Regions from separate parts of the Homo sapiens genome. Here region 1 is linked to region 2. The links come from fine-mapping of genetic effects on gene expression. A gene starts in region 2. The other region holds a variant in brackets. All regions are shown on one strand. Distances are between the middles of the regions.

Region 1 (16,214 bases), 66 kb before region 2:
TCAGCTCACTGCAACCTCTGCCTCCCAGGCTCAAGCGATTCTCCTGCCTCAGCCTCCCGAGTAGCTGGAATTATATGCACGTGACACCATGCCCAGGTACTTTTTGTATTTTTAGTAGAGATGGGGTTTCCCCACGTTGGCCAGGCTGGTCTCAAACTCCTGGCCTCAAGTGATCTTCCCGCCTCAGCCTCCCGAAGTGCTGGGATTTCAGGTATGAGCCACTGTGCCTGGCCTGCATTTCTTTTTTTTTTTTTTTTTTTTTTGAGACAAAGTCTTGCTCTTGTCTCCCAGGCTGGAGTGCAATGGCACGATCTTGGCTCACTGCAACCTCCATCTCCCGGGTTCAAGTGATTCTCCTGCCTCAGCCTCCCGAGTAGCTTGGATTACAGGCACCTACCACCACACCTGGCTAATTTTTGTATTTTTAGTAGAGACGGGGTTTCACCATGTTGGCCAGGCTGGTCTCGTACTCCTGACCTCGTGATCTGCCCGCCTCGGCCTCCCAAAGTGCTGGGATTACAGGTGTGAGCCACTGAGCCCTGCCTGTTTTTTTTAAAAGCATCCTCTCTATGTAACGCAGAGTATGGTCCTTGGAGAGTGTAGAACCCAACTTATTAAAGTTCCCCCATCATATTTAAGACACTATGGCAAAAAAGTGTGAAAAAGATATTTAGCAAAGATGGTGATGACTTGCAGTCAAATAGAGTCCCTTAGGTCACATGAGAAAGGTAACTGACTTCCTGTCAGCCTATGTCTCATCCCAGCCAGAGAATCCCACCTTGACTCCCCTGACTCTTGAAGCCATCCCCTTTCTGCCATTCAACTACATCCTGTCCTTGTGAACTAAACTCAAATGGTTTTCTCTACTAGGAAGACTTCTTTGTTAACCACAACCATCTGTCCACCTACAGGACATGGGTGTCTTCAACATCTCTTAATGCCTCCCACTTGCTTTCTGTTTTACCTCAAGTCTGTAAGGCACAGGTCATACTCATGTACCTAATCTCCTCACTAGATCATAAGTGCCCCAAGGGCAAGATGCCTGTCCTTTCCCCCCCTCCCCTCCCTTTGAGACAGGATCGTGCTCTGTTGCCCAGGCTGGAGTGCAGTGGTGTAATCATGGCTCACCGCAGCCTCGACCTCCTGGGCTCCAATGATTCTTCCTCCTCAGCCTCACAAGTAGCTGGGACTACAGGCATGCCCCCACGCCCGGTTAACTTTTTTTTATTTTTTGTAGAGACAGGGTCTTACTATGTTGCCCAGGCTGGTCTCAAACTCCTGAGCTGAAGCAATCCTCCTGCCTTAGCCTCCCACCGCACCTAGCTGATGCCTGTCTGTTTTAATTTTGCATTCCCAAGGGCCCCTGGGGCCACACCTGGCTCAGTGAGGAGTCACTGGCTCTGTGAGTGTCCTAATTTGTGAGCTCTTTAGTCCTGAAATCTCACTTAGCTGGTGTAGCAAGTCCCATCCTGTGGCTTCTCCTCTACAGCCACTATACACAGTTCCTGCAGTTTCATGGGGAAGGAGGTAGGGGTGTGGTGTCAGGTGGCCAGGTCACTTGTCCTGTCTGGGTCTTAGTAAATTCACATGTAATAAGAGGGGGCCAGCCTGAAGGGCACAGAGCTGCTTCCCCAGAGAGATTGGGGGCAGCCAGGGTCCCATTCACCTGATTCATCTGCCAGCCATGCCTTTCTGCTCTGCCTCCAGAGTCTGTGACCTGGGACAGCCTAGCAGGCAAGGAATGGTCCCCTGGGAGAAAGGGCAGAGCCTTCTGCCTACCCTGCCCTGAGCTCTGATTTGGTTTATGAGGTCACTTCACTGCCAGCTTGGAAGCAGACTCTCCAGTCACATGGAAGGAAGTAGATCCATTTCAGAGGGGAGAGGAGGCAGCTGTGGGCAAGAAGAACCTGAGGGAAGGAAGAAGGGGCCGGGCCACAGCAAGCCCCAGGCACTGGAAAGGTATGGACTGAGGTGGCAGGGGGTAGCAGGCAAGCTTTCCCTTCTTCACTGTTTCAACCAAGGTCTGCTCTACCACAGGGGCCCCAGCCAGGGCTCTGTGCCCAGAACAACCTCTGCGCAAAAGGCAGGAGGAAAACTGGAATGAAAGGCTGGGCAGCTACAGCCCAAGGGAGAGGACAAGATGCAAACCACAGAGGGGGAAACCCAGGCAGCCCATTCACAGAAGAGTCTTCTCCACTCAGAGCTGAAGAAACACGCTCAGGCCCACAGCTAGCCCAGCAGGCCCCTGCACTAGGACTGCTTGCTGCTTCTCCAGCTCAGAGCTCATTGCAGGTGGGCAGGCGTCCTGCTCCAATGCAAGCTCCTGCCCAGAGGCAAGGTCCGAGGGTAGCTCTTCTCCGTGAAGCCAGCATGGCAATGCAAAGCCACTTCCAGGCTACATGACCTGGGACAGGTCAGACAACCTCCTAAGCCTCAATGTCTTCATCCACAAAATGGGGATAGTAGTATATATTTCAGACGACTACCGTGATAATTACAGTAACACATGTGAAGTTCTTACCATAGGGCCTGGCCCATAGAGAGCCCTCAATAAATGGTGCCTCTGTTGCTCCTGGCCCACCCCTGGGCACCCTCTCCCTCCCTCCTTCACTCCCTGTCCTCACCTTCTGCTTGGTGCTGAGGGGCTGTGACTTCAATTTTTCATCCTTGCTCTTGGAAATCCTCAGGAACTGCTTGAGGTCTCCCTAAGGGAAAAGCCAGGCATCTCGCTCAGGTCAGTGCACAGCCATTGGCTGTAAAGCCTCAGACCAAGCAGGTGCTCGCAGAATTCCTGCCTGGGGAGGCAGTGAGAAGGCCTAAGCTAGCCTGGGCCCCTTTCCCAGGGGGAAGTTCACTGGGAGTGCAGAACTTTAAAAATATATAGGAGACGCCTCCTAGAGGCTGTCTCAGTTAGAAAGGAGGAGAATTGGCATTTCTACCCCAAGGGGAACCTCCAGACAGGTGGGGCAACAGAGCCCCCATCTTCAGTGAGCCAAGAGGAAAACAGTCCCCTACCCTCTGCCCTCAAAGATTCCTGAGAGGAAACCCCTGTCCTCCAGAGCTTTACAATCTAATCTAAACAAACAAAGGAGAACGCCAGCAGCAGAAACATACATAAAGCATTCATAAGTACTTGTTTGTTTGTTTTTAATTTTTTTGTAGAGACAGAGTCTTGCTATGTTGCCCAGGCTGGTCTCGGACTCCTGGCCTCAGGCGATCCTCCTGCCTCAGTCTCCCAAAGTGCTGGGATTACAAGTGTGAGCCACTGTGCCCAGCCGCGTAAGTACTTGTTAATGGAAAGACTGATAGGACTCCTGCCCGCTCTTGCCCCAGAACTAGGGATTTGAGAAGCAGCAGTTTGAGGACCATGGGGTGAGGGCAAGGACCAGCTGGGGAATGAAGAGGAAGGCGCAGCTCTGGGAATGACACCCTGAGTGGAGAGGAGAAGGCTGGTGGCTGGGGTAACACTCATGTCACAAGTGGTGCTAGGAAGGAGGGAGGCAAAGTGGGTTCTGATATATTTATTCTCAAGTGGGGACAAGCTTTTGGGGAGGAAAAAATAACAAACCAAAGAAAACAAGAGTCAGAGAAGATGACCTGGAAGGCATCCCTGCAGTGTGACAGTGAGAAGTCCCAGAAAAACTTAGGACCAACGCCCCTGAGATACAGATGGAAAGACTGGGTGCTGATAAAGGGAAAGCAGGCATCCAAGAGCAGGGAAGGCAGAAGCTGAGCATCATAAGGTGGGCAAAGTGTAACAGCAGGCAGGTGAGGTCTCGGCTGAGACTGCACGAGACAAGGTTTTCACGGTGCTCCAACCACTGACTCCCACCTTTGTAGGACACTGCCCTCCCTACCCGAGACCCCCACGTCCCCTGCCAACAGCATACCAGATCCACATATTCCAGCACCATGTAGTGGGGCTCAGCCTCCCGGCACAGCCCCAGGAGCCGCACCACGTTGGCGTGGTTCAGCTTCCCAAACATCTCCAACTCCCTCCGGAAGTCCAGCTGCTGCTGCTCATCCTTGCTCTGCAGGCTCTTCACAAGTACCAGGGTCTCTGCCACTCCCTCCTCCAAGCCCTGAGCCTTTGCCAGGAACACCTCCCCAAACTCACTCTTCCCTGTGGGTACAGTCTGAGTCAGCCAGCCACCTTCACCCAGGCCGAGGCAGCTCCTGACCTGGGGGAGGGGCCTAGCCTCTCCCACAGTGGGGACCCACCCACCTGGGCTGGGCACGAGACCCGGTTCTGCTGTGACCCCCTCCCTCCTTAGGCTTCAGTGTCTGCAGCAACAAAATAAAAGGGTGGGACTAATATTCAGCATTTTCCAAAGGGTGACTCGCATGAGAATTTTTGGTGGCTCATGGTAAACATGTCTTAACGTATGCTAGGAAAAAACGTAACTATGACAAACCCATGATTTCTCATATTTTTTCCTAGAACAATGGTAACTTAGTTTTTTTTTTTAAAGAGTCAATTTAAATAAAACATCAAGTAAATAATACTACAGGTAGTACACAGGAATGACAAAATCTGCACGAAGGGCAGTGAATAACAGGCTCTGGGGCCACACTGGGCTAGATCTCTACCTATGCTTCCCTCCACCTCTAACATTCTAGGTTTCAGGGACTTCAGAACACTAGCCCGTACCCAGCCTCAAGACACAGCGGGTGACTTGTAGTTAGGCAGGGGCAGCTGTAGTCAAGGCAACATACCCAGCGTGGTGATGGGCTGCAGGCTAGACCGTGGGAAGTGCATCTTATCACTTGTGCTGTGGCGTTTGTTGGTGGCCGCGGGGCCGGAGCCCAAGCTGGTCAAGGCCACTTCTTCTTGGATCTCTGCTGAGGGCTGCCCGTTCTGCAAAGGCCCACCTGGGAAGGAGGAGGACAAGAGCGTCACGATGAGACCTGACACTCTGGCCACCATGGGGATTTCTGTTCTGTCCCCTGGTCTTCCACTCTTGCCAACTTGGGTCCAATCACAGTGCTCCACATGAAAGGGCAAGCCCAAATGATGAAATAATGGGGCTGGGGCTGGGTGGGGGATGTATGGCTATCCCCTAGGGTATGACCCCTTAGTGATGCAGCTGATTATGACCTCTGAGATGAAGCCAACTGCAGACATCTAATCTGAATCACTGGTCCTTAATACCATAGCTACACATAAGGATTTTTGCTTTCATGGGGCCTCCTATTGGGCAAAGCCCTAAACAGGCACAAAGGGAAAATCACAATAATGGAGACCCAACCTCTGCTCCTGAACACCTGAGCTGATAGGAGAGACCCAGCAATGACCTCAAGGAGCTCCCAGTCCAGGAAGTGGGGATAGGAGAAGGGAAGTAAACAGAAAGACTGCCCCTGGGGGAGCTCTTAGACTCATAGAGGGAGACAAGACATGCAACAGCAACGTGTGTACATATACTAATGATATCTGTGGTTTTGTGCTGGGAGGAGGAAACAGCAGGGAATCATAGGAAGCTGGTCCAAGGGGCTCCAATGAAGAAGTCTCAAGCCAGGTTGCTCAGAAGACGAGGCCCTGGGAATCCAACTCCAGGCTTCCCGCTAGGGGTGGGGCAGTCCCAGCTCCAGGACCCAGCAACAGCCGCTCGGTTTCCAGAGTGCTGGCGCTCTCCCCTCCGTGGCCGCGGGAGGGCGCTCAGCTCCCGCACACGGGCACCACCTCCCCGTCCAGGGCCCCTCACCGTTGAGGCATTCCATCTCTGGCTCCTCGCCCTCGGGCTGCTTCTGCAGCCGCTTGGCTTTGCAGCGCTTCTTGCAGTAGAACATGAGGCCCAGCACGGCAATGATGTAGGCCACAGCGGCACCCACCGACAACCCAATGGTCTGGATCATCTTGTAGGGGGGAGGGCTGCCAGGGCCCTCCGACTCCTCCGGCACAGGCTTGTCTGAGAGACACACAGATGGGTCTGGGCAGGGGCTGCTAAGCAAAAGAAGCCCTGCTTCTCTACTAACTCCTCCCAACCCCATCAACAGGGCAACTTAACAGATGGCCCGGGAGGGTCACCACCTTCACTGGCTTTAACAAGGGCCAGCAGGTCCTCATGCCCCACCAAGGTCAAACGAAGACTCTGAAGGAGATGAGGCCAGGGGTTCCCAAGCTGGCTTTGCATCGGAAGCCAAGACAGGCGACACGGATAAGCACACCTGTCAAGGAGCTACCACAAACCCACGTTATTTGTTAAGCTTCCCAAGTGACTTGATAATGTGAGCCAGGCCCCGGAGAGCAGCATTTGGGAGCTTCAGGTTTAGAATTCCAGGCACTGCCTGGCACAGAGCAGGTTTTTCAATAAGCAGATCTGTAGAAGGGATCTGCTGGTCTAGGGGCCTTTTAATGGCCCACACTGAGGGGCCTCAAGAGGCATTAGGGGAATGAAGGGAGACCATGCAGGATCCCCCAACTGCCACACACACCCCAGTGGCTCCCACCAAGGGGGCCTCCTCAGTTCATTTTCATCCATTTAAACTTTCACATTATACTTTGTCTAGAAAAATAACTCTGCTGCCAAACCAAGAAAGTTTAAGAGCTTCTCATTTAAACCACTTTCACCTGTGGATGCAGAAACAAGTCCCCAGAGGAGAAATAAGTCTCCCAGGGGCAGAGAGTTAAGTGCAGGGCCTTTTACCTGACCCATCATCCTCTCTGGGCCTCCTGGAGAAAAGAACCTTGTCCTACTGCATTCTGACCTGGTCCTCCTCCCCAGCCACCCAGAGATATGTGTGGCTGCTGCAGGAACCTGGGAGGCAGCATTGTAGGAAGAGAACACCCCCCCACTCCCCCACAACACACACACACACACACCGAC[C/G]GTTGGATGTTAAATAAACGACAGCCCGGCTCTGAGCAAGGACTCTAAGACTGTGCAGCAGCATGGTGAGACGGCCGAATCCCCACCGCTGCCACAAAAATGGCTTCTGTGCCATGTTCTGTACACAGGGGCTGAGTACAAGGTGACAAACGTCTGGGCCCACCACTTCCTGTGCAGCATAACCCTCCCCAGCCCATACCCACGACATAGAGGGGGGCCTCCGTGTGCTTGATGTTGCAGCTGTTGCCTGCAATGCAGGTGTAGCGGCCTGAGTCCTCAGGGGCCACGTCATGGATCACCAGGGAGCCATTCTGGAAGATGTGCATCCTGTCGGGGGAGAAGCCATAGTGCTGGCCAGCTCGCAGGGAGGGGGGCTGCAGGAGAGGAGGGACGGGTGTGGGAGAGAGGTGGCCCTACCTGGGTCCCAGCTTGGTGGGGTCCAGGATGCGGTCCTTGCCTTTCCACTGAATCAGCGGCTTGGGGTCCCCCTGGGCCTCGCACTGCAGTAGGGCTGTGTGGCCCTGGTACACAGTCGTACGCTCTGGTTCCACTTTGAAGGTGATAAAAACTGGAAGAAAAGAGACCAGCGAGGCGCAGGGAGGGGTAAGCCAAGGGGCTGGCAGGGTACACGGTGCTACCCCAGAGGGCCCTCCCAGCCCCAGGGCCCTGCCACGGTCGCACCTGCCACAGTGAGCTGGACATGGGCACGAATCTGGCCCTGCGGCCCGTTGGAGGCAATGCAAGTGTAGTTGCCAGCGTCATCTCGAGTCACCCGGGCAAAATGCAGGGTCCCAGCGTTGTCTGTCACCCACTCTGGGAGGCTGCTCCCATCTGCAGGGGTAACAAAGGGAAATTATGGGAAGGATCAGGGTTACACAGACAGCTGGCAATGCCTTCAGTCCCTCACCTCTACTCAAAAACACACCATCGCTCCTGACCACCCACAGGCAAAGTCCAAACTCCTGAGCCAAGTGTTAGAAGCCCCTCCGTTATTTACCCCTCTTCCAATTCTTCAGTCTCACCTCTTCCTCCTACTGCCCTGTGTGACATTCCACGTCTGCCAAACCGGACTCTGTTTGGGCCCAGATCGGCCCTGTTCCTACTCCGCTGCCCATCACTTCTCCCTCCTAGAGCCCATTCCCGCTCTTTACCATCCCAGGCTGTAGATCCATTTTAAGCCTCACCTCTCCCAGAAAGTTCCCCCAGACCTGAGCAGAGGGAGCCTACTTCCTCCTCAGAATCTACAACTGTACTCTCTCACTCTAGGTGGAAATGTCAAAATTGGTCCAACCTTTTAAAAAATAATTTGGCAACTCACATCAAGGGCTATAAAAATGTTCATACCCCCTTTCGTGCATAATTATCCCAATTCTGGGAATCTTTCCCAAAGGAAATAAACCTAAATCCAGAAAAAAACTTTGGCTTAAAGATGTTTATTGCAGCAATGAAAAAAAAGGGGGTGGGTGGGTGGCTGGTTAACAACCCAAATCTCCAACATTTAAGGAACAGTTAAGTAAATTACAGTGAATCCAATTGTTGAAATATTATTAGGATCATCAAAACAAATATTCATGAAGAGTGTATAAAGATGTGGGGAAATGCTTGACAATGGTAAGTAAAAAAGGGTATAAAATTACACCGTTACAAAAAAAATAAAAATAAATAATTTTAAAAAATATTTTTAAAAACTACATAGTTATCTGTATTGTCTAATTCTACAATAAGCATGTCTACAGGCATGCACCACCATGCCTGGCTAATTTTTAAATTTTTTGTACAGACAGGGTCTCCCTGTATTGCCCAGGTTGGTCTTGAACTCCTGGGCTCAAGCGATCCTCCCACCTCGGCCTCCCAAAGTGCTGGGATTACAGGCATGAGCTACCACACTCAGCCAATCATGTAAATTTAATAACTGAAACTATATATACAATAAAACTGCTAGGTAAAAAAAGAAAAACATATGCACAGAAAAAGAAGACATACACCCAAAGATGATAAACGGCAGGACTGTACATTTTTTCTCCCAATATTTTTTTTTTTTTTTTTGAGATGGAGTCTCGCTCTGCCACCCAGGCTGAAGTGCAGTGGCACAATCTCGGCTCACTGCCACCTCCGCCTCCTGGGTTCAAACAATTCTCCTACCTCAGCCTCCCGAGTAGCTGGCACTACAGATGCGTGCCGCCACCCCTGGCTAATTTTTTGTATTTTCAGTAGAGACGAGGTTTCACTACTCTATGTTAGCCAGGATGGTCTCTATCTCATGACCTCGTGATCCACCCACCTCAGCTTCCCACAGTGCTGGGATTACAGGCGTGAGCCACCACGCCCGGCCTCTTCCAGTATTTTGTAAAGGAGCCCATGTAACTTTTGTTTCTTTTTTCTTTTGAGTCAGAGTCTCACTCTGTCAGCCAGACTCTGGTGCAATGGCATGATCTCGGCCCACTGCAGCCTCCACCTCCTGGGTTCAAGCGATTCTCCTGCTTCAGCCTCCTAAGCAGCTGGGATTGCAAGCATGTGCCACCACGCCTGGCTAACTTTTGCATTTTTAGTAGAGATGGGGTTTCACCATGTTGGCCAGGCTGGTCTCAAACTCCTGGCCTCAAGTGACCCACCCATCTCGGCTTCCCAAAGTGTTGGGATTACAGGCGTGAGCCACTATGCACGGCCTCCATGTAATTTTTATGTTGGAAAAGATAAACTATTTTGGAAAAGGGGAAGAGAGGACTTTACAGCACTGTCTGAACCAATCCAATCACTTGTTGCCTTGAGTTGTCTTCCATGTTGTCCAAGGCTATAATCTGACCTCTTCTGTGTCTGGCTTTTTCCTTCCTAACTAAACTATACATCAGCCCTGCACTGCTTGTCTAATCTCCACATTTCCTGGCACAGTGCGGGGCACCCAGCAGCCCTCAGGTATGTATCTGATCAGTGAACTGCCTGCCTGCCCCTACCCTATGCCGGCACTGTACCCACCTGCCCGTTCCCACTTAATAGTGGGCTTCTCTCGGCCTGTGGCTGAACAGGGCACCGTGGCCTCCTTGTCAAACTCCATGCACTGCTGTGGCTGGGGTGGTGGTGTGAACTTGAGCTTTTCTGTTTCAGCAGAGGGTGGGTAGAAAGACGAGGAATTGGGGCCGCTGGAGAGGCCGTGGCCAGGCCTGCTGCTCCCTCCCCTTTCCTCTCCTGCCTAGCCAGGAAGGGTGCTCCCCCAAGACATGCTGGCTCACCCAGCACTTGGACACGGGCTTGCGCCTCGATGCTGCCGGCTGGGGTGCTGCTCATACAACGGTACCATGTCCCATCATACACCTCCACGCTGTTGATGCGCAAGGTCCCATTCTTGAAGACCTCGAACCGTGAGTCCTGCAGCACAGGTGAGAGGCCTCAGAGCCTGAACCCACACCCACCTCTCCCTGGAGGCTGCCTCCAGGGTAAGAGTGCTATGGAGGTGAGCACAGAAGAGGGCAAGTGGAGGGAAGGCCCCGCCCATCCACTAGCAACACTCTTCTTTCTCACCTCTGAGATGAGCATCTGGTTTCTGTACCAGACAACTGTAGGTTTTGGTGTGGCCTGGGTCAGGCAATCCAAGTAGCCGGGTTTGCCCTCCTCCAGCTGGCTGTCTTGGGGCTTCTTCAGCCAGGAGGGCACAGCTAGACAGACAGGAAGGAAACAGTGAAGGCTGCTTCACAGGTCTCCAAAACTAAAGGATCCATCTCCAAGAAATCCTACTACCATTCTAGGCCCTGAGTTCAGAAGCCCCATGCTCCTCAGATGGCAGGAGTTTCCCTTTACGGAAGACCCAGGTGCCAGCACCTTTTTTAAAATTTTTTTTCTTTTAAGACAGGTTCTCACTCTGTCACCCAGGCTGGAGTAGAGTGACACAATTATGGCTCACTACAGTCTCGAACTCATAGGCTCAAGTGATTTTTCCCACCTCAGCCTCCCAAATAGCTGGGACCACAGGCATGCACCACAATACTTGGCTAATTTTTTTATTTTCTGTAGTGATGGGGTCTTGCTATGTTGCCCAGGCTGGTCTCAAACTCCTGGCTTCAAGCCTCCCCAAGTGCTAAGATTACAGGCATGAGCCACCACGCCCGGCCACCAGCACCTTTTGAACATTATCTTAGTTAACTGTCACATTAATTAACTTAGTTAACATTATCTTAGTTATAAGCCCCTATGGTAGGCAGGGAGTGGTGGCTCACACCTGTAATCCCAGCACTTTGGGAGGCCGAGGCGGGAGGGCTGCTGTAAGACACTGCACTCTAGCCTAGGCAACAGAGTGAAACCCCCATCTCTAAAAAAACAAAAAAAACAAACCCCCCAAGGTATGTATTCCAACACGCACTTTACAGCTAAGAAAACAGATGTTCAAAGAAGTAATGGTGGCCAGGCACAGTGGCTCACGCCTGTAATCCCAGCACTTTAAGAGGCAAAGGCGGGCAGATCATTTGAGGTCAGGAGTTCAAAACCAGTCTGGCCAACATAGTGAAACCCCGTCTCTACTAAAAATACAAAAACATTGGCCGGGTGTGGTGGCGGGCACCTGTAATCCCAGCTACTGGGGAGGCTGAGGCACAAGAATCGCTTGAACCTGGGAGGTGGAGGTTGCAGTGAGCCGAGATCACGCCACTGCACTCCAGCCTGGGCGAAAGAGTGAGACTCCATCTCAAATAAAAGATAAAAAATAATAATAACAATAATAAAAAAAGAAGAAGTAATGGTGATTTGCTAATACCTAATAGTGACAGAATTTAAAACTCTGGTCTATATGACTCTGAAACCCTTGTTCTTCTTATTACACCATAAAATGCCAAGGCGCAGTCCTCAGAAATCTGTTCTGTTTTAGCAACACTCACTCATCCAGTCCACAACCTTCAATACAACATGAATGGTTGGTTCCCAAAACTACATCCTGATTCCTATAAATCCAATTGCCTACTGGCATTTCCAACTGGATATCCAACAGGCATCTCAAACTTTACGTGTGCTAAAGAGAACACCTGACTTCCCCCAAAACCTGCTCACTCATTTTCCCTATCTCAGTCAATAGAACTATCTAGTCAGTTAAGAAAGCCAAAAAGCTAGCCTTGTCTTCTCTCTATACCCCACCCCCATCACACTCGTTCTACCAAACCCTATCTACTGGGGCTCCTAAATATATCCTGAATTTGACCACCTCTCACCCCCACCGCTACTGCCTCTGTTCAAGCTCCTTCAGTATCTCCCCTAGACTATTATAGTCATCTACTTAGTATGGGTCTCCTTGTTTATACTCTTGGCCCTAACATTCTAGTCTCAAAACAGCCAGAGCGATCTTCTGAAAAATCAGTCTTCCACTCAAAACCCTGCAAGACCTTCCCATCCAATGTGGTGTGGTAGGCTGCTTGCAATGATAGTTATAAACAATCCTCCCATCCCTTTCAACTCTTTTCAATGTGATGTTGACACTTTCCCATCAAGAGGTAGAGTTTATTTCTTTTTGTGTGTGTGAGACAGGGTCTCATCCTGTTACCTAGGCTGGAGTGCAGTCACGCCACTATGGCTTACTGCAGCCTCAGCGTCCCAGGCTCAAGCAACCCTCTCACCTCAGCCTCCAAAGTGGCTAGGACCACAGGCGCGTACCACCAGGCCCAGCTAATTTTTTTTTTATTTTTAGTAGAGACGGGGTCTGGCCATGTGGTCCAGGCTGGTCTCAAACTCCTAGGCTCAAGCAGTCCTCCCACCTTGGCCTCCTAAAATACTGGGATTGCAGCGTGAGCCACTGAACTGGGTCATGGTGTATTTTTCTAGTCCCTGGAATCTGAGTGGCCTGTGACTTCCCTTGTCCAACAGAACACAGTGGTAGTACTGCAGCTTCCACTTTTGCCCTCTCGGAACCCAGCTGCCAGGTGAGGAAGCCTGGCTAGCCTACTGGAGATGCCATGTGGAGGAGAACTAAGGCACCCTGGTCAATAGCCCCAGTCAACTGCCAGACAGGTGAGTGTGGCCGCCAGGGACCAGGCCAGCTCACCCATCAGCTGACTGCAAACGTGTACACCCAGCCGATAGCACACCAGGTAGACGAGCGGGCCCACCTGAACCTGTCCACAGAATCATAAGCATGTCAACGGCTGTTGTTTGTTGTTTCAAGTCACTACGGTTTGGTTTTTTTTTTTTTTGAGTTGGAGTCTTGCTCTGTCACCCAGGCTGGAGTGCAGTGGCGCGATCTCTGTTCACTGCAACCTCCACCTCCCAGGTTCAAGCGATTCTCCTGCCTCAGCCTCCCAAGTAGCTGGGATTACAGGCATGTGCCACCATGCCTGGATAATTTTTTTTTTTGTATTTTTTATTTTATTTTGAGATAGAGTCTCGCTCTGTCGCCCAGGCTGGAGTGCAGTGGCGCAATCTCGGCTCACTGCAACCTCCGCCTCCTGAGTAGCTGGGATTACAGGCACATGCCACCACACCTGGCTAATTTTTGTATTTTTAGTAGAGACGGGGTTTCAGCACGTTGGTCAGGCTGGTCTCGAATTCCTGACCTCGTGATCCACCTGCCTCGGCCTCCCAAAGTGCTGGGATTACAAGGCGTGAGCCACTGCACCCAGCCATTTTTGTATTTTTAGTAGAGATGGGGTTTCACCATGTTGGCCAGGCTGGTCTCAAACTCCTGACCTCAAGTGATCCACCTGCCTCGGCCTCCCAAAGTGCCACCACGTTTTGAAGTGGTTTGCTATGTAGCAATGGATAACTGATGCCGAAGCCAAAGTCCTTACTATGCTTTTACAAGGCCTATGGGATTTAGTTTCCACCTCTCAGGCAACTTCAACCCCTCTCACCATCGTTTATTCAACTCAAGCCACACAGGCGACTACTGTTCCTCCAACATACAAGCCCATTTCCATCTCAGGGCCTATCACATGGCTGGCTCCCTTCTTAATTTAAATACCAACTCCAATGCACCTTTTACAGAAGTCTTCCCTAAACTCTCACTGGCCCTGCCCTTTCTCTATCACTTGCCCTATTTCATTGTTCTCCCTTGTTCTACTGGCACCTAAAATTATATTTGTTCATTTGATAGTTTTTCTTACTGGCTTTGTCCCCGCTGTTAGAATATGAACTCCACAAGGAGAGGGGCTTCTGCCTGCTTTGTTCACAGTTGCATCCAGTACTGGGAAGAGCTAGCACAAGGTGCTCGACAAATCTCTGTTGACTGAATGCATTCCCAGAGCTCTCCGTCTTCTGGGCTCTACCCTCTAACACCCAGCACCTGATCTGGCCCTGTTTGCATCACACACTCTCAAATGCCACAGGCCTCCTTCTCAGAGCACAGCAAGGGACACTGGCATGGCTCAGTGTCAGCCTCAGTCAGCATCTGTGGAATGACTGATCAAAGCCAGAGTTCCCCAACTTGAACACACATGAAGTATCACCCAGAGCACTTGTTAAATACACATCTACCTGGGTCCCACCCCTAGAGCCTGGGTTGGAAGCTGTGGAGTGGGGCCCCGAATTCTGCATTTTTTTTCTTTTTTTCAAGGCTCCAGCAATGTCTTAGACATTTTTTTGGAGACAGGGTCTTGCTGTCATCCAGGCTCCAGTACAGTAGTGTGATCATAGCTCACTGGAACCTCCAGCTCCCGAGCTCAAATGATCCTCCAGCCTCAGCCTCCCAAATAGTTGGGATTATAGGTGTGCATCACCATACCTGGCTAAATTTTTTTTTTTTTTTTTCCTGAGACAAAGTCTCGCTCTGTCACCCAGGCTGGAGTGCAATGGCACGATCTCGACTCACTGCAACCTCTGCCTCCTGGATTCAAGCAATTCTCCTGCCCCAGCCTCCCAAGTAGCTGGGATTACAGGTGAGTGCCAACATGCCCAGCTAATTTTTGTATTTTTAGTAGAGACGGGGTTTCACCATGTTGGTCAGGCTGATCTCGAACTCCTGACCTCGTGATCCACCCACCTCGGCCTCCCAAAGTGCTGGGATTACAAGCGTGAGCCACCGCGCCCAGCTAACTTTTTAAATTTCTGTAGACACAAGGTCTCACTATTTTGTCCAGCCTGGTCTCAAACTCCTGGGCTCAAGAGATCTTCCTATCTCGGCCTCCCAAAGCACTGGGATTATAGGTGTGAACCACCACGCCTGGCCTGTGTTTTAAAAAGTATCCCTAATGAGGCCGGGCATGGCAGCTCACACCCATAATCCCAGCACTTTAGGAGGCCGAGGCAGGTGGATCACTTGAGGTCAAGAGTTTGAGACTAGCCTGGCCAACATGGTAAAACATCGCCTCTACTAAAAATACAAAAATTAGCCAGGTGTGGTGGCACACACCTTTAAACCCAGCTACTTGGGAGGCTGAGGCACGAGAATCACTTGAACCTGGGAGGCGCAGGTTGCAGTGAGCCAAGATCACACCACTACACTCCAGCCTGGGTGACAGAGTGAGACTCCGTCTCAAACAAAAGAAGAAAAAGTATCCCTAATGAAAGCAGGTGATTCTCAGACCTCAACTGGAGGAAGGCTTGACTGTGCATCTTGCCTTTGCACCTGCACTGTGAGTGTCCTGAGCACTCGTTACACATGTGCTGTGATTCCCACCCAAATCACGGCCTGAGTATAGGTGCATGTCTTCTAAGATTTCAGTATCCTAATGGGAATACTAGCATCACAACTTCACATTTACAAAGCCACTTTCATATTCAAATCTTTTTGCAAAGTTACCCACTCGGAAAGATAATAGTAACATAAAGGTAAGTGGAAGAAGCAGATTGCAAAATAGTTTGTATGTATGTGTGTCTCTGTGTGCATATTGTAATTTTTATTGTGTATCCTTTTAAACTACCACAAAAGGTTTGGAACAAGGCATGGTATAAAGAAATAAGTAAACAAATAAATCCCTATGCCTGTAGTGAGGATATAAGGTTTGTTTTGTTTTGTTTTGAGATGGAGTCTCACTCTGTTGCCCGGGCTGAAGAGCAACGGTGCGATCTCAGCTCATTGCAACCTCTGCCTCCTGGGTTCAAGCAATTTTCCTCCCTCAGCCTCCTGAGTAGCTGGGATTACAGGTGTGCCCCACCACGCCCAGCTAATTTTTGTATTTTTAGTAGAGATGGGGTTTCACCATGTTGGTCAGGCTGGTCTCCAACTCCTGACCTTGTGATCCGCCCGGCTCGGCCTCCCAAAGTGCTGGGATTACAGGCATGAGCCACCGCGCCCAGCCTGATATAAAGGGTTTATCATGTGTACTTTCAGTCATATGTCTTGCTTTTCTCCCCCTCTTTTTTTTCATAAGTAATATGTTTAGTAAAGAAATTTGGAAAGCATAACAAACTAAAACAAATTAAAAATCACCTATAATTTTGTCCACTATTACCTCCCAAAAAAGAAAAAAAGAAAAATCATTT
Region 2 (15,660 bases):
ACAGAGGGCTTCCTCAAACCGCTGATTAGCTGTGGCATCTCTCAGGCCAGCTCCACCAAAGCGCCAGGGGGCTCAGCAGTGAACTCAAGAGAATTCCAACATAGGACTCTAACCAGCTACAATGGCAGGACTTTCACACCCTCAGAAGAAGGACCAGGCAGATGGGGGCCAGAGCAGGAATCAGGAGAAGGGCAGGCGGCAGCTCCAGGGCAAGGTGAGGGCCAGTGCCAGCAACTGTGGCCCCAAGCCTGTAACCCCACCACGTGGCTCTGGCCAGGGGTAGTGCCCAGGCACAGCAGCAGAGAGGCATCTACTGAGGTTAGGGAGAGCAGGAGGTTGAGGGACACAGGCCAAGGACACCCAACCTTGTTTAATGACCCTTTCTTCCATCAGGAAAACACCAAAGACTGAATCCTTGGCCCCAAACTGCTCTTGGCTCCAACACTAGAGTCTGAACCGGCCAACCTCTATCCCAGACGAGTCTCACAGAAGCTGCATTGGCTTAAACACAGACTCACACAAACCCCCTCACTCCAGAATATGAAATGCTCCAAAGACTAACAACACTACAGCTGTCAAAGCCCAGCGGAGACATGCCTCCCTTTATGAGCCAAATGTATTCCTGAAAAGTTGTCTGTCGACCAAATTTCTGCCTAACAAATCCAGTTTCTCCACTGGCTTTCGTTATAAAATCAGCCGTATTCTCCTCTAGGAAAAGCTGAGGTTCTGAGAGGAGCTAAACATCAGGCTGAATATTGCAGACTTCCTAGAGTCACACATTTAATGGAGAAATTTCTTGACAAAATCTAATTCAATTTAAACCCAAAGGAGGTAATATTAAAGCGTACACATCACCCCAAGGAGTGTTCGCATAAAGTGAGTTATTTAAAGCAAATCTTCAAATACTGTGCAGCATCTCAGCTCCCAATTTATACTGTTGCAACAGGAAAGCTCTGTGCCTTGAGATTCTGTATAAAGAAGGATGCCTAGGCCAGGACTTCTGGAACTCTGGGGTACAGAGTCACCTGAGCATCTTGTTAAAATGCAGATTGCAGCAGGGCACGGTGGCTCACGCCTGTAATCCCAGCACTTTGGGAGGCTGAGGTGGGCGGATCATGAAGTCAGGAGTTCGAGACCAGCCTGACCAACATGGTGAAACCCTGTCTCTACTAAAAATACAAAAAAATTAGCCTGGCGTGGTGGTGCGCGCCTGTAATCCCAGCTGCTCAGGAGGCTGAGGCAGGAGAATCGCTTGAACCCAGGAGGTGGAGGTTGCAGTGAGCCAAGATCGTGCCACTGCACTTCAGCCTGGGCGACAGAGTGAGACTCCATCTCAAAAAGAATAAATAAATAAATTGCAGATTGCGATTCTGATTCATGCTCCCAGGAATGCTGATGCCACGTGGCCCTGGGTCTTTCTTCAAGTAGCACAGTTATAGATACTCTAGGCCCCTACCCAGTTCTCTGAGGAAGCAACTTTAGCACCAGTTTTTAAGTTGCAGTCAGCTTCATACGTAGCGGTGCTTACCCACGCACAGAACTTGGAGAAAGCTAGAAGACCCACCACATCAAAACTGAGAAAAACCACCACCAAAACCAGCCAGCCCAGGATCAGGGAAGGAAGGTCTGATCCTTAATTTGGTCACCGTAGAGCAGGCGCAAGGAGGAACAGGCAACCCCAACTCAAAGAAGCTGGGGAGGGTGCAAAAGACTCCCCATGCCTAGGATGCAAGGGGATATTTAACTCCACCCTTGATCATTCTGCCCTGCACCCAAATGGTTCATTCACTTTTTAAATAAACCTATATGAGGACCTGTTATATCGGCTGGGTGCAGTGGCTCACGCCTGTAATCCCAGCACTTTGGGAGGCTGAAGTGGGCAGATCACCTGAGGTCAGGAGTTCGAGACCAGCCTGGCCAACATGGGGAAACCCCGTCTCTATTAAAAATACAAAAATTAGCTGGGTGCAGTGGCACACACCTGTAAACCCAGGTACTCAGGAGGCTGAGGTAGGAGAATCACTTGAACCTGGGAGGTAGAGGTTGCAGTGAACCAAGATCGTGCCAATGCCTCCAGCCTGGGAGACACAGGCAGACTCCATTTCAAAAAAAACAAAAACAAACAAACAACAAACAAAAAAACCACCTACATAAGAACCCATTATAAATAAGTACTGTACTAAACTCTATGGGAGAGCCCCTCAGTAAATTAAAACAAAACCCAATAGGGGCAAAAATATGGATGGTGTCGCAAGAATGACAGTCCAGAAGTTCTACAGTGTCTACCTTCTGGCAGGAGAGATAGGACAGCTTCAGGGAAGAAGAGGCGGTGGGGCTGGGCAACAGAGAGACAGGAGAAGGCAATGTACAACCGGGGACTGGCCCGAAGGAAAGAAAGGTGGGAGAAAACCAGATATGTGTTAGGAGATGGCAAATATTCCAGCTGGACTGGAATGGAGGGTCCCAGTAGGTAAAATGTCTATTGTTGGGAATGACTGTAAAGCTGAAGGAATCTTTGAAGCACACCACAGAGGGAAGACCAAGAAAGGGCTGTGTGTGTGTGTGTGTGTGTGTATTTTTTTTTTTTGAGACGGAGTCTCGTTCCGTCGCCCAGGCTGGAGTGCAGCGGCGCGATCTCGGCTCACTGCAACCTCCACCTCCCGGGTTCAAGTGATTCTCCTGCCTCAGCCTCCTGAGTAGATGGGATTAGAGGTGTGTGCCACCACACCCAGCTAATTTTTGTATTCTTAGTAGAGACGGGGCTTCACCATGTTGTCCAGGCTGGTCTTGAACTCCTGACCTCAGGTGATCCGCCTGCCTTGGCCTCCCAAAGTGCTGGGATTACAGATGTGAGCCACTGCACCCGGCCTACTTCATTATACTTAATCCTCAGCACAACTCTAGGATGTCCCTTTATAGAAGAGGCTGAGAAGCTAAGAGGTTCATCCAGGGCCACAGGGCCTGCCAATGAGTCTGAGTTGCTGCTTTGCCAGATATACTCCTTATCCCTGGGCTCCACATCCCTCAACAGAGGATCAAAAACACTGGGGGAAGATAAAAATTAAAAACAATACAACAATAAAAAAGAATACAAATTAAAGAATACAACAGTTATTTACATAGCATTTCCATTGTAATAGGTATTACAAGTAATTTACAGATTTTTTTGTTTTTTTTGAGACAGAGTCTCGCTCTGACACCCAGGCTGGAGTGCAGTGGTGCAATCTCGGCTCACTGCAAGCTCTGCCTCCCGGGTTCACGCCATTCTCCTGCCTCAGCCTCCCAAGTAGCTGGGACTACAGGCGCCTGCCACCACGCCTGGCTAATTTTTTGTATTTTTAGTAGAGATGGGGTTTCACCATGTTAGCCAGGATGGTCTCGCTCTCCTAACCTCATGATCCGCCCACCTCAGCCTCCCAAAGTGCTGGGATTACAGGCGTGAGCCACTGCATCCTGCCCTTTTTTTTTTTTTTTTTTTTGAACTCTGTCACCCAGACCGAAGTGCAGTGACACAATCATGGCTTACTGTAGCCTCAACCTGCTGGGCTCAGGCAATACTCCCACCTCAGTCTCCTGGGCAGCTGGGACCACAGGCACGTGCCACCATGCCTGGCAATTTTTTTTTTTTTTTTGTACAGGTGGAGGTCTCATTGTGTTGCCAAGGCTGGTCTTGAGCCCCTGGGCTCAAGCGATCCTCCTCCCTCTGCCTCCCAAAGTGGTGGGATAACAGGCGTAAACCTGGCCCTTAGAGATGATTTAAAGTATACAGGAGAAGCTGGGCATAGTGGATCATGCCTGTAATCCTCATACTTTAGAGCACTGAGGCAGGAAGACTGCTTGAGCCCAGGAATTTGAGGCTTCAGTGAGCCAAGATTGTGCCACTGCACTCTAGCCTGGGTGATAGAGGAGACCCTGTCTCATAACAAAACAAAACAAAAGTATACAGGGAAGTTGTGTGTACGTTATATGTAAATACGACACCATTTTATATAAGAGACTTGAGCACCCTTGGATTTTTTTTTTTTTTTGAGACGGAGTCTCGCTCTGTCACCCAAGCTGGAGTGCAGTGGCACGATCTCGGCACGATCTCGCCCAAGCTGGAGTGCAGTGGCACGATCACTGCAAGCTCCACCTCCCGGGTTCAGGCCATTCTCCTGTCTCAGCCTCCCGAGTAGCTGGGACTACGGGCACCCGCCACCACGCCTGGCTAATTTTTTGTATTTTTAGTAGAGACAGGGTTTCACCGTGTTAGCCAGGATGGTCTCAATCTCCTGACCTCATGATCCGCCCGCCTCGGCCTCCCAAAGTGCTGGGATTACAGGCGTGAGCCACCAGGCCTGGCCGCACCCTTGGATTTTGTTATTCTCAGGGAGTCCTATTCCAATTCCCTGCAGATGCCAAGGAAGGACCATACTTTATCTCCATTGCTTGAGCTCTGTCCACCACTCAATGCTGCTCTGAACACCAGGAGTTTGAGTATATCATTTGACAAGTGACAAGAAGAGCACCCTTGCCCTGCCACCATACTTCCCAACAGCTGAGAAAAGCCATCACTAATAAAAGCAACTCCTAGGCCTGAATTACAGGCTGCAGAGCCTTGAGGAATCTGCAGACAGCCTATCCCAGAACATGACGACTCAATTTCCCCAAAGAAACAAGAGCCCGGAGGAAAGAAACCAGGGAGGGGGATGGGAATTGGAATGAGAAGTGACCACAGCTGACTGTACAAGAGGTTGGGGTTAAGAATCCATAGTTTCAAACATCAAGCCTCCTCCTCCTCCACCATATTTATTACAACAGCATCTCAAAGTTTGGAAAGTAACTCTGCCATTTATGGCATAATTACCCAGACTTTAAAATGGTCTAATCCACAAACCTAGCCAGCCTAGGTTCCTTACTCCAGCCTTATTAACAGTGGGATCTCACTACAACTCCAGTTAATTACACAATTAAACAATGAGATGCAAACATCTACTGTGATCTATTAAAAAACCGTTGCCCCTGAAGTCATGCGTCTGGGGGTGGGTTGAGTCCCAGGATTTCACTAGAAGACAGCAGGCGCCTCGGCCTCCACTGAAATTGTTTACAGCACATGGACAGGTTCCACAACAAGGCACATTTGGTGGAATTGATTTAAGGCTCTCATTAAAATGTTCCTTTGTTGAGCACAAGACATCCCCCCACCCCTGAGGAGACTACAGACCTCCTGTCCTAAGCCCTCAGCCTGCCCTAACTTCCCCCAACAGGATCCCCCACACACACGCGCGCACACACACTAAACACCAACCAGTCACCAGATTAAGTCAATTAACATCAGAGTCATCTTCTCATGGAAGGAATTTAGGAATTCAGCATTTGTTGAGCAAGAGCCCCATCTTCACCAGAAACTCCCCTTGACTCTAGTACCCTGAACAGCAGCAGTGAAGGCAGCCTCATTGGGCAGACCCACACACCAAAACCCAACCAGGACAGCCAGGGGGCCTGTGAGCTTGGGCTGCTCGCCCAGATGGCTGGGCCCCCATCCTGGCTGTGCAAAAAAACTTCCATACTTCCTCTGGGAGCAGATGTGGATTCTGCCACGAGCAATAACCACCACACACATCACAAGAAAAACGGGGCAACTCCAGAAACACCTCCTCCAAATCCCTGGAGATTGGTCTCTTTCCTGGGTTACATTTACCTCTCCTTTTACAACTGGGGGCAGGGGAGATGTTGATTCCACCAGCACCAAAACCCCTCCACAGCTGGCAGGCCAGAAAGATATTAGAAAGGCAATTCCTTACCCATGCCCTTCCCATTGCCACCTTCAAAGGAGATGGAAGGTGATCACCTAGGACAGGTCTCCTCGACAGAGCTCCCCAAGAGAAAGCTGCTTCGAGGACCACCAAGGAGTGTTGTGGAGGGTCGGGGGCTTTATTTCCAGTCCGGGCTATTTGGGATGTGCGGGTGGCTTGGTGCTTTCCTGTAAGGCACTTCAACACCTCAGTGATGACTCTTAGGTGTGACCAAGCCAGGAAATAAAAGCTGCGGGAGTTGGGGGGGCGGTGCTGTCTGCCCTGGTGATGAGGGCCACACCCTCGTTAAAATGCTAAGGCCCCCCCCCAAGAAAAGCCAGAATGAGCTCTTTTTGCCTTTCTTCCCTTAGAAATACTTCCTTTCCTCTGTGAGGACAGTCAGGATGGAAATCCAGGAAGGAGCAGAACAAACCCCGTCCGCACCTTTGCAGCCAGGCCATGCCCGATTTTGGCAGCGGCCTTCACACATTAGTCACCGCGACAGCCTGGGACCCTCGGATCCCCGGATTCGGCCCTGGCACGGAGTGGGCGCAGGGTTCCAGACCAGTAGCTAGAGGCCATGGATGGGGGCGGCCCCTAACTCTTCCCTTCTTCCGCCCTCACCCGCAGGGCCATCTGGGGTCTCAGCTTTGCCCAGGAACTCGGAGGAGGGAAGCCGGGAACGTCGGGTCGGCGTAGGTAACAAAGCTCCGCGCTTTGCGCGCCGCAGGTCTGTCCGGCATCGGGCCCCAAACCAGCAACTCTTACCTGGGCCGACCCTGCCGGGTGGGGTGGGGAATTCCTTTTTCTCCATCGCGCTCCCCACGGTGGGTGCGGATGGTCTTTTCTCCCCCGACAAGAAACTCCCCATCTGGGCCCGAGAGCCAGCAACTCTCGGCAGTTCTCGAGCAAACTCTCGGCTCAGACCAGAAAAACTCAGGGAGGCTGGAAATGCGTCCCCGCGGCGCGAGTGGGAGGGGTACCCTGACCGCGTCCCTGGAGGCTTCGCCAGCCTCCCGACACCCGGGCTCCTTGCGCCCTTCCGCCGCAAGCCTGCACCCCCAGCGAGCCTCTCCACTACTCCAGGGCCGTTCCAGCCGCCCAAACCCACCGCCCCGGGCGCAGCCTTTTGCCCACGGGACTCCCGCGCTTCCCAAGCTCTGTGCCCCCAACTCTCGGGTACTCACCGCCCAGCAGCGGCAGCAGCAGGACGCTGAGCAGAGGCAACCGGCGGGGTCTGGCCGGGGATCCCCGCGCAGCTCCCATCGCGGCGGGCTCAGGAAAAGGAGCTGAGGGCGCACGGCGGGCGCGCAGACTGCGCTCCGCGGCGGGCACAGGAGGCGGAGCGCACCGGAGCGCGGGCGCCGCAGCAGCAGCCGCAGCCGGAGCCCGACCCCGAGGCGTCCCGAGGCGTCCCGAGCCGGAGCCGCGCGCGCCCAGTACCTCCGAGTCCCCGCGCGCCGCCGCCGCCGCCGCCAAGCCCCGCCCCACGACGCCCCCTCCCCTCCGGCCCCCGCACGGCGCCCCGCCCCCTCGACGCCCCCTCCTCGCCGAGGCGGGGAGGAGCTCAGTAGGGGGAGGGGTCTGGAGAGGGATGGAGAATAGAGAGAGCAAGGCTCAGGGAAGTGCAGGGGACCTGAGTATTTGCTGTACCCACCACCGACTCTGCAGGGATCCGGGAGAACCTAAGTGACTTGTGCGATTCCGTGGACCCTGGGGAGAATGGTCCATTCTGGGCATACCTGGAGGCTCTGGCCAACAGTTCCCCCAGAATTCTCCAGGTGGGGGCAGGGGAAGAGGCGGGCCCCGCCAACTCTTCAGCAACCCAAAATCTTAACGGCAGACCCAGAACAGCAGGGTGTCCTTAATGTCCCCAAGTAACCTGAAGATGCTGTGTAGCCCGGAGAGGGGCTGAAGTGTGCATGACTGGGGTCTGGTTTGGCTGTAGACCAATCTGAACCCAAAGGTAGAAACACGCTGGGCTCTGAAAGCCAGGCTGAAGTCTGCTAACTGACAAATTCATCCCAAGTCCATCTCCAGGCAGTCTGGGCTGTGTCAGGGTATGGCCAAGTCTCCAGCTGTGGGGAGGCCCAGCACAACCCTTGTTCCAGGCACCCCCACCCCCAGCGCCACCACCCCCACATTCTTTCTTTGTTGTGAAAGCAGCAAGGGGTGTAGGAGGCGGGTCAGGAGGAGTCAAGCTTTAGAAGATGGGCCCCAGCTGCTGCTCAGGCCTCCAAGATATGCTGAGAGGGGATGGATAGTGCCTTGTCTCCCCTCTGGTTCCGGAGGGCCCCCCAGGCCTGTTTAGACCTCCCTTCCCCCAAGCAGCTGGGAGGAGGAATGGCAGCCACAGAGGGCCTCACAGCCAGGAGAAGTGGCGCCAGGACTCCAGGGTCCTGCCACATGGCCACCACATGTCCCTGACAACCCAGTCCACAGCACCTTCTCCTTGGGTTGTGAGCCTCCTTCTTCCCCATCCCCCAGATGCCTTCCTACAGGCCCTGCTGGAGATGATACAAACAACGGGAGGAAGAGAGGAGAGATCCAAGAATCAACACTCCTCCTGCTGCTCCATCCATCACTGCCCCTCACCTTCTGTGAAGGGCCCCAACACAAGCCCTGCTTCATACCCTCTTCAATCAGGACTCAAGTCACAGAAAGGTTACCTGATTCTTTTATTTAAGAAAAGTGAAATACATGGACCTGAAGTGAGACAGCAGAGGGAGGGAGTAAGAGCGGCCAGGGCAAGGCAGCTTGGCTGGCCAGCCCCCAACCCTCTGACTGAAAAGCCAGCAGCAGGCTGCATCTCTGAGGGCCATACCTGCTTTGTACCCACCTTGGGGCCTCAGAGCTAGCTACTCTAGAGGACCACAGGGTGCAGAGAGGGTGTCCTGAGGGTCCTTCCTAAGAGGGATTCCTGAGGAGGGAGCTGAGACCCTAAGGGCAGCAGCAATCTTCTGGTTAAACTGCTCCCCTTCACTGTCCCACCTAGGGGTGGGGAAGAGCCAGGAGCAATGGGGAATGCTGTGAGGGCTGTGGGGGTGGGGGGACCCAGCAGACCTGGGGGCCGGGTTGAATGTCAGCTGCTTGAAGAGAGGTCCATGGTGCTGGCACTGAGGCCCCGGGAGACCTGAAACAGACAACACTACCCCATCAGCTCAGGGACCTCGGCCTCCCAAAGACTGGCTCCTAGAGTCCATCCATCCCATGGTCACAGTGTATCTCTGGACCTAGGATCACATCTGTCTCTGGACCAGTCTATCTCTGGACCTGGGACTTTGTTTAGCCTCTGCTAGGGTTTTCCAGAAGGCCACAATCTGGTGGAGAAGCTACCTGGAAGAACCACATGAATACTGGCATATACTTGTGTGTTGATACAAGAAGTCATTTGCCATTAAAATATCACTAGTGTTTTCTCAGATGGGGATTATTTAATACTTTTCTTTTTCCATTCTCATCTACTACTAAGGCGGCTGCAGGATGAAAAAATAATTCGTATCTCCAAATAATTCTTAAATTATTCATAATTCCAAAGTACCAGTTTACAGAATATTCCTATTTCCCTCCTTATTAACTTATTTGCTACTATGTCTGGCCTGAAACTGTCCCTTGGTGGTCAGCACTCACCACAAGCTATCTGCCTGATTCCTTAATGACTGCAATCCCCTGGCTCATCTTCATCCCAGATGACTCCTCTCCCTTCCCTCTTCCCTTACTCCACTGGGCTTGCTCACTGGCTGTCCTTTTTTCCTCACCCACCAATATGCTCACAAGCACTGCTCTCACCTGGAGGGGTGCTGCACTAGGTTGGTTCAGATAGTTCAAGGAGGCTGCTCGCTTCATGTTGCTGCTACAATGGAAAACGGAAGAATTGAGGCCTCCTCTCTTCCTCCTGAGTGGCCTTAAGGCTGTGGGCCTCTTGAGCACTGCCACACTGGGGCACCCATTCTACCCAAACTCTCTCTCCATGGCTGGCCCGTTGACTTCCTCCCTGTTTCTCTCCGAGATACTTCTCCAGAGATCAGGAGCCAAGAGGAGTTGGAGGCAAGGGCTTACTTTACTTGCCTGCTTTACCATATCTTTTTTTTTTTTCTTTTTTTTTTTGAGACGGAGTCTCGCTGTTGTCGCCTGGGCTGGAGTGCAATGGCATGATCTTGGCTCCCTGCAACCTCTGCCTCCTGGGTTCCAGCAATTCTCCTGCCTCAGCCTCCCAAGTAGCTGAGATTACAGGCACCTGCCACCACACCCGACTAATTTTTGTATTTTTAGGAGAGAGTTTCACCTTGTTGGCCAGGCTGGTCTCAAACTCCTGACCTCAGGTGATCCACCCGCCTCGGCCTCCCAAAGTGCTGGGATTACAGGCGTGAGCCACTGCACCCGGCCACTTTACTGTATCTTGACTTCCATGTATACCTGGAGGGCCGAGGCTCAGTCCCCTGGAGCTTCCTCACCAAGAGTTCACTGCTTCTGCGGAGCACATCCCGGATCTTGCCAAGAGAGCCACTCCTCTGCAGGGTCCCACTGCCATCCTGGCAGAAAGGAGTGAGCAATGAAAGCTACAAGGATCCCACACAGATGGGTTTCTGAGTCTACTCCTAGCATTTATTCTGCACACATCCCCCACCCCCAAGGCCCAGTGACTGGAAATAAAAGTCCTGTCAAAAACTGGCTCCCAGAGATACCCCTGAAGGAATACACTACCTAGACTGGGACAGCATGGCCAAGAGCCTCTCACCACCACCAGCAGGAGTGGGCAGGAGAGATGAAAAGGCAATGATCAGACTTACCCCGGACCACTCCACAGCCACAGAAGCATCTTCACCTCCCTCGAATTTCACACTGTCTCCAGGGCCCTCCTGGGAGGTCCTTCTACCATCACTCTCCCCAAGCAGCTCTGCCACCTTCGTCTGGCTGATAGGGTCAGTGCCCTGGAAGGAAAAGGAAGGACCTGGGACTTCCTACTCCTTAACTCCTCAGGATGGGGCTTTCAAATTTTTTTCACCATCAGCCACTGGAAGGAAAACATTTTTCCTTGTGATGTCTCAGTTTATACCTACTGGAATAATACTTACCTTTTCTATTTGCAATGCATTGCTATATATAGATCTGTATATATTTTTATCCCCATGGCCCATACTGAATTGATTTCACAACCTACTATTGAGACCCACAATCTAAGAAATTCTTGATTTAGGCTCTCCCCAACCTCACTCCTCTCACCCATACCACCCAGGTCCCCTCCTTATGAAAGGGCAGGGTTTCTCCTTCATATCCCCATTTAGTGAATCTTGAAACTAGAGTCCTGACCACAAAATGCAGGTGGGGGGTAAGAACATGCTTAAAAACAACCACAATCACAACACTGCCTCACTTTCCTCTCCCTCCTGGCTTCATCAGCCTTTCCGCTTATTCTTAGGAGACTCCCAAGAAACCTCGGCACTCTCTCATCCCCAGGGCCCTTCCCTCTAGGACCTCCTTCCCCTCTGGGCTTCTGACCTGTCTCCGGGACCGCAGGGCACATTCCTCCAGGGTCTCAGCAGCCTCCAGCTTTCCCTGGCGCCTATACAGAGCTCCCAGGTTTCTCAGAGTAGTGTTCACTGTGGGGCTGTGGTGAGAAAGAGACCAGAGAAGGAAGAGAGAATGAGTTCAGAAAACAAAACATTTGTCTTCCAAGCAAGACAAGAGGAAAAAAAATAAGAAAATAGGAGAGGGAACAGAGCTAAAGCTGAGGGAAAGTCTACGGGAGGAAGGGAAAAGGTCTGGGAGGCTGGGAGCAGGGACTGGATGGAGGGCATCGGAGGCCAAGCTGGCTTTTCACTGTCAGCTCACCTGCTCACTTTGCAGGCCTTGTACCAGCCTCCATACTCAGCATAGGGTGTCCCACCCTCATGGTGCCGGCTCTGCAGGACAGAGAGAGGCCAGAAAGAAGGGCAGGGAGAGCCAAATATAAGAATACAGAGATGCTGAGATGCAAGGTGGCATGGGGCTAGGGTGCAGGCTGGGCTGGGGAGGACACCATGCATCTGGGGCTGGTGCTGGGATGGGAAGTGAGAGTTGGGCTAATGCAAGGAGTAAGACAGAGACCCCGGTAGCCTTGAGCTCCCCAGGCTGGCCCCCCTTCCCCCCACTCACTTTGCTCATTTCCTCCCGCTCCTCTGCATGCATCCAGATGGGCTTGTGGTCATCTAGGGGTGATACATGGGGTGGGGAGGTTAGAGATGGGAGCTAGACAGTGTCGGAGAGCCAGGACCCAGAGGCTGACAGGCTGGACTGAAGGGGTCTGGCTCCCCCTGGGAACCGCTGTGGCCTAACCCCCGACCTTTGGTCTGAATTTCTTTTCTTCCCCACAGCCCCTTCCCCAGGCCCTCACCACTCACCATCCACAGACCCAAACTCCTGTACATGGGCACGGGTCAGGATCTCTTTGTATAGTGTCTCAGCCTCAGCATATTTGCCCTGTTTCAGGTAACAGGAAGCCTGGAGGACAGAAAGGCAAAAATACAGGAACAAAACATGGAGGGAGGCAAGGTCTTTTTTTTTTTTTTTTTTTTAGACAAGGTCTTCACCAGGCTCAGGGAGTTCCACTTCTCAGTGTCTCTCTCACTTTCCCCAGAGATCTTTCTCACACCTCCTTCTCCAGGTGTAGGGTCAAGGGTATTCCCAGCCCACTCCCAAGAAGCTGTGGAACTTCTATAACTGGAATGAAGCAGATCCTTCATCCGCAAAGGCAGCCCCAGACATGAGCACAAAGTTGATGAGAGCAGTGTGCCAGACTGTGATGCTTCCTGACTCTAGGACCCAAGTGGCCTCTCCGCCTGCCCCCCCTCCCCCCACCTCTGTGCCCCCCTCTCCGTTTCTTCCACCTACTTTGTCCCTCCTCCCATACCAGGTTGTTCTTGGTCCGGGCTACATTAGGGTTGTCCGGCCCCAGCTGCCCCTCGTAGATGGCCAGTGCTCGCTGGTAGTAGCGTTCCACGGCCTCATACTTGCCCTGGTTTTGGCACAAGAGGGCCAGGTTGTTCAGCTGTTTTGCCACATCTGGATGATTCGTGCCCAGGACCTGAAAGGGAACAAAGGAGTGGATAAATGGCTATGATAACATGTGTGTGCACAAGCACACGTGTGTTTGCATGTAGGCACACACATGTGGAAAGCAGAGGAAAGGGAATGAAGGAAGAGAGAACAAAGCAGAGATGGGGGTGAGAAAAAAAAAGTGAAGGAGGAGGGTTAGACCAGAGGAGCCATGTAGAGAAGGGTCACAGCGACAAGAGAAGAAGGGAGAGAGGGCATGGGTACCTTTTCTCGAATCTCCAGTGCCCGCTGGCACAGAGGCTCTGCCTCCTTGTACTTGCCCCTTTTGCCATAGAGCACAGCCAAATTGTTGAGTGTGGCAGCCACCTATGAAGACAGGCCTGTCCCCATCAGACATTTGGGTTGCAAAAGACCTATGGGAATCTGAGGTTCCCCACCTCCCAGCAGGGCCCAACACTCACTGCACAACTCTAAGAGACAAAGTCTACTACCCTGGAGCCAGGGGCTGAAGGGAGGGGAAATTGCTGAACAGGATGGCTCTGAGGCTAAGGGACAGTATCGCCCTCTAGGGGATTTTAAGAAATTTCTGGAGGTGTTTTTTTTCTTTCTTTTTTTTTTTTTTTTGTTGTTGTTGTTGTCACCATGAAGATTACCTTTGAGGAGGCAAGAACGCTATAGATGTTCTGCATGTGTGGGACAGCTCTGCCAATTTTTTAATGTCCTGCCAGACATCCAAACGCTAAATGTAAACATTGATATTTGATGGGATATCAAGACAGGAGTATGATTTCTGAGATACATCATCCCTGCCTATCATATGTCATACCATAGGGAATTATTTTCACACAGATCACATTCAAAAATAGCTTTTTGGCTGGACGCAGTGGCTCACGCCTGTAATCCCAGCACTTTGGGAGGCCGAGGTGGGCGGATCACCTGAGGTCAGGAGTTCGAGACCAGCCTGACCAACATGGAGAAACCCCGTCTCTACTAAAAGTACAAAATTAGCCAGGCGTAGTGGCATGTCTGTAATCCCAGCTACTCGGGAGGCTGAGGCAGGAGAATTGCTTGAACCCGGGAGGTGGAGGTTGTAGTGAGCCAAGATCGTGCCATGTTGCACTCTAGCCTGGCAACAAGAGTGAAACTCTATCTCAACAAAAAATAAATAACTTTTCAGCTGGGTGTGGTGGCTCACACCTGTAATCCCAGCAGTTTGGAAGGCTGAGGTAGGTGGATCACTTGAGGTCAGGAGTTCAAGACCAGCCTGACCAACATGGTGAAAACCCATCTCTACTAAAAATACAAAAATTAGCCTGGCGTGGTAGCACGTACCTGTAATCCCAGCTACTTGGGAGGCTGAGGCAGGAGGATCACTTGAGCCTGGGAGGCAGAGATTACAGTGAACCCAGATTGTACCACTGCACTATAGGCTGGGTGACACTGCGAAACTCCATCTCAAAAAACAAAACAAAACAAAACAAAACAAACAAACTTTTCATTTTTCATTTTCTGTACATTGACAACTCTATCATTTGCCTTGGCGTGATATCTCTACTTAAGGTTGTTTCTCTCTTTCCTTTTATTTATATTTATTTATTTATTTATTTATTTTAAGATGAAGTCTCACCCCATCACCCAGGTTGAAGTGCAATGGTGCGATCTTGGCTCACTGCAACCTCAGCCTCCTGGGTTCAAGCAATTCTCCTGTCTCAGCCTCCCGAGTACCTGGGACTACAGGTGCATGCCACCACAACTGGCTAATTTTTGTATTATTAGTAGAGACAGGGTTTCACCTTGTTGGTCAGGCTGGTCTCAAACTCCTGACCTCAGGTGATCCGACCACCTCGGCCTCCCAAAGTGCTGAAATTACAGGAGTGAGCCACAGCGCTGGGCCGCTTCTTATTTTGTTGAGACAGAGTCTTGCTCTGTTGCCCAGGCTGGAGTGCAGTGGTGCGATCTCGGCTCGCTGCAACCACCAACCCCCGGATTCAAATGATTCTCCTGCCTCAGTCTCCAAATAGTTGGGATTACAGGCATATGCCACCATGCCTGGCTAATTTTATATTTTTTTTTTAGTAGAGACGGGGTTTTACCATGTTGGCCAGGATGGTCTCAAACTCCTGACCTCAGGTGATCGACCTGCCTTGGCCTCCCAAAGTGGTGGGATTACAGGCGTGAGCCACCAAGCCCAGTCTCTTCCTCTTATACACAAATAAATCTGGTCTGTCATTTATTTTCTTTTTTTTTGAGACAGAGTTTTGCTCTTGCTGCCCAGGCTGGAGTGTAGAGGCGCGATCTCACCTCACTGCAACCTCCACCTTCTGGTTTCGAGTGATTCTCCTGCCTCAGCCTCCTGAGTAGCTGGGATTACAAGTGCCCCCCACCACGCCCGGCTAATTTTTGTATTTTTAGTAGAGACGGGGTTTCACCATGTTGGCCAGGATGGTCTTGAACTCCTGACCTCGTGATTTGCCCACCTTGGCCTCCCAAAGTGCTGGGATTACAGGCATGAGCCACTGTGCCCGACCCTTGTGATTTCTTATAATACTGTACTTTAATAAAGTGTCCACCTATATTTTCTTTTTTTTTTTTTTTTTTTTTTTTTTTTGAGACGGAGTCTCGCTCTGTCGCCCAGGCTGGAGTGCAGTGGCGGGATCTCGGCTCACTGCAAGCTCCGCCTCCCGGGTTCACGCCATTCTCCTGCCTCAGCCTCCCAAGCAGCTGGGACTACAGGCGCCCGCCACTACGCCCGGCTAATTTTTTGTATTTTTAGTAGAGACGGGGTTTCACCGTTTTAGCCAGGATGGTCTCGATCTCCTGACCTCGTGATCCGCCCGCCTCGGCCTCCCAA

Evidence for each region.
Region 1: its variant is fine-mapped to the expression of PTK7 in whole blood (TOPMed, PIP above 0.99).

Annotation. Positions count from the first base shown.
Region 1 is chr6:43,133,109-43,149,322 of GRCh38, reverse strand. It overlaps PTK7 (protein tyrosine kinase 7 (inactive)), which reads right to left. Exons shown (of 20, transcript NM_002821.5): 8 at 10,341-10,474; 9 at 10,052-10,187; 10 at 9,798-9,917; 11 at 7,506-7,655; 12 at 7,242-7,392; 13 at 7,024-7,151; 14 at 5,703-5,906; 15 at 4,717-4,872; 16 at 3,891-4,123; 17 at 2,625-2,705. Among named protein-coding and RNA genes, the nearest start is that of SRF, 30 kb to the left of the region's middle. RefSeq lists an enhancer at 5,808-5,897. The variant C/G (reference allele first, on the strand shown) is at 6,825.
Region 2 is chr6:43,067,869-43,083,528 of GRCh38, reverse strand. PTK7 (protein tyrosine kinase 7 (inactive)) reads right to left here and starts at 7,215. Exons shown (of 20, transcript NM_002821.5): 1 at 6,962-7,215. The coding sequence starts at 7,040. KLC4 (kinesin light chain 4) reads right to left here. Exons shown (of 16, transcript NM_201521.3): 7 at 13,074-13,175; 8 at 12,664-12,837; 9 at 12,155-12,254; 10 at 11,910-11,962; 11 at 11,607-11,677; 12 at 11,274-11,382; 13 at 10,565-10,705; 14 at 10,191-10,306; 15 at 9,564-9,627; 16 at 8,436-8,907. The coding sequence ends at 8,857. KLC4-AS1 (KLC4 antisense RNA 1) reads left to right here and starts at 7,299. Exons shown (of 2, transcript XR_002956347.1): 1 at 7,299-7,834; 2 at 8,262-9,196. RefSeq lists enhancers at 1-219, 220-786, 7,557-8,080, 11,847-12,347, 13,184-13,478 and silencers at 1,821-2,024, 7,128-7,227, 13,184-13,478.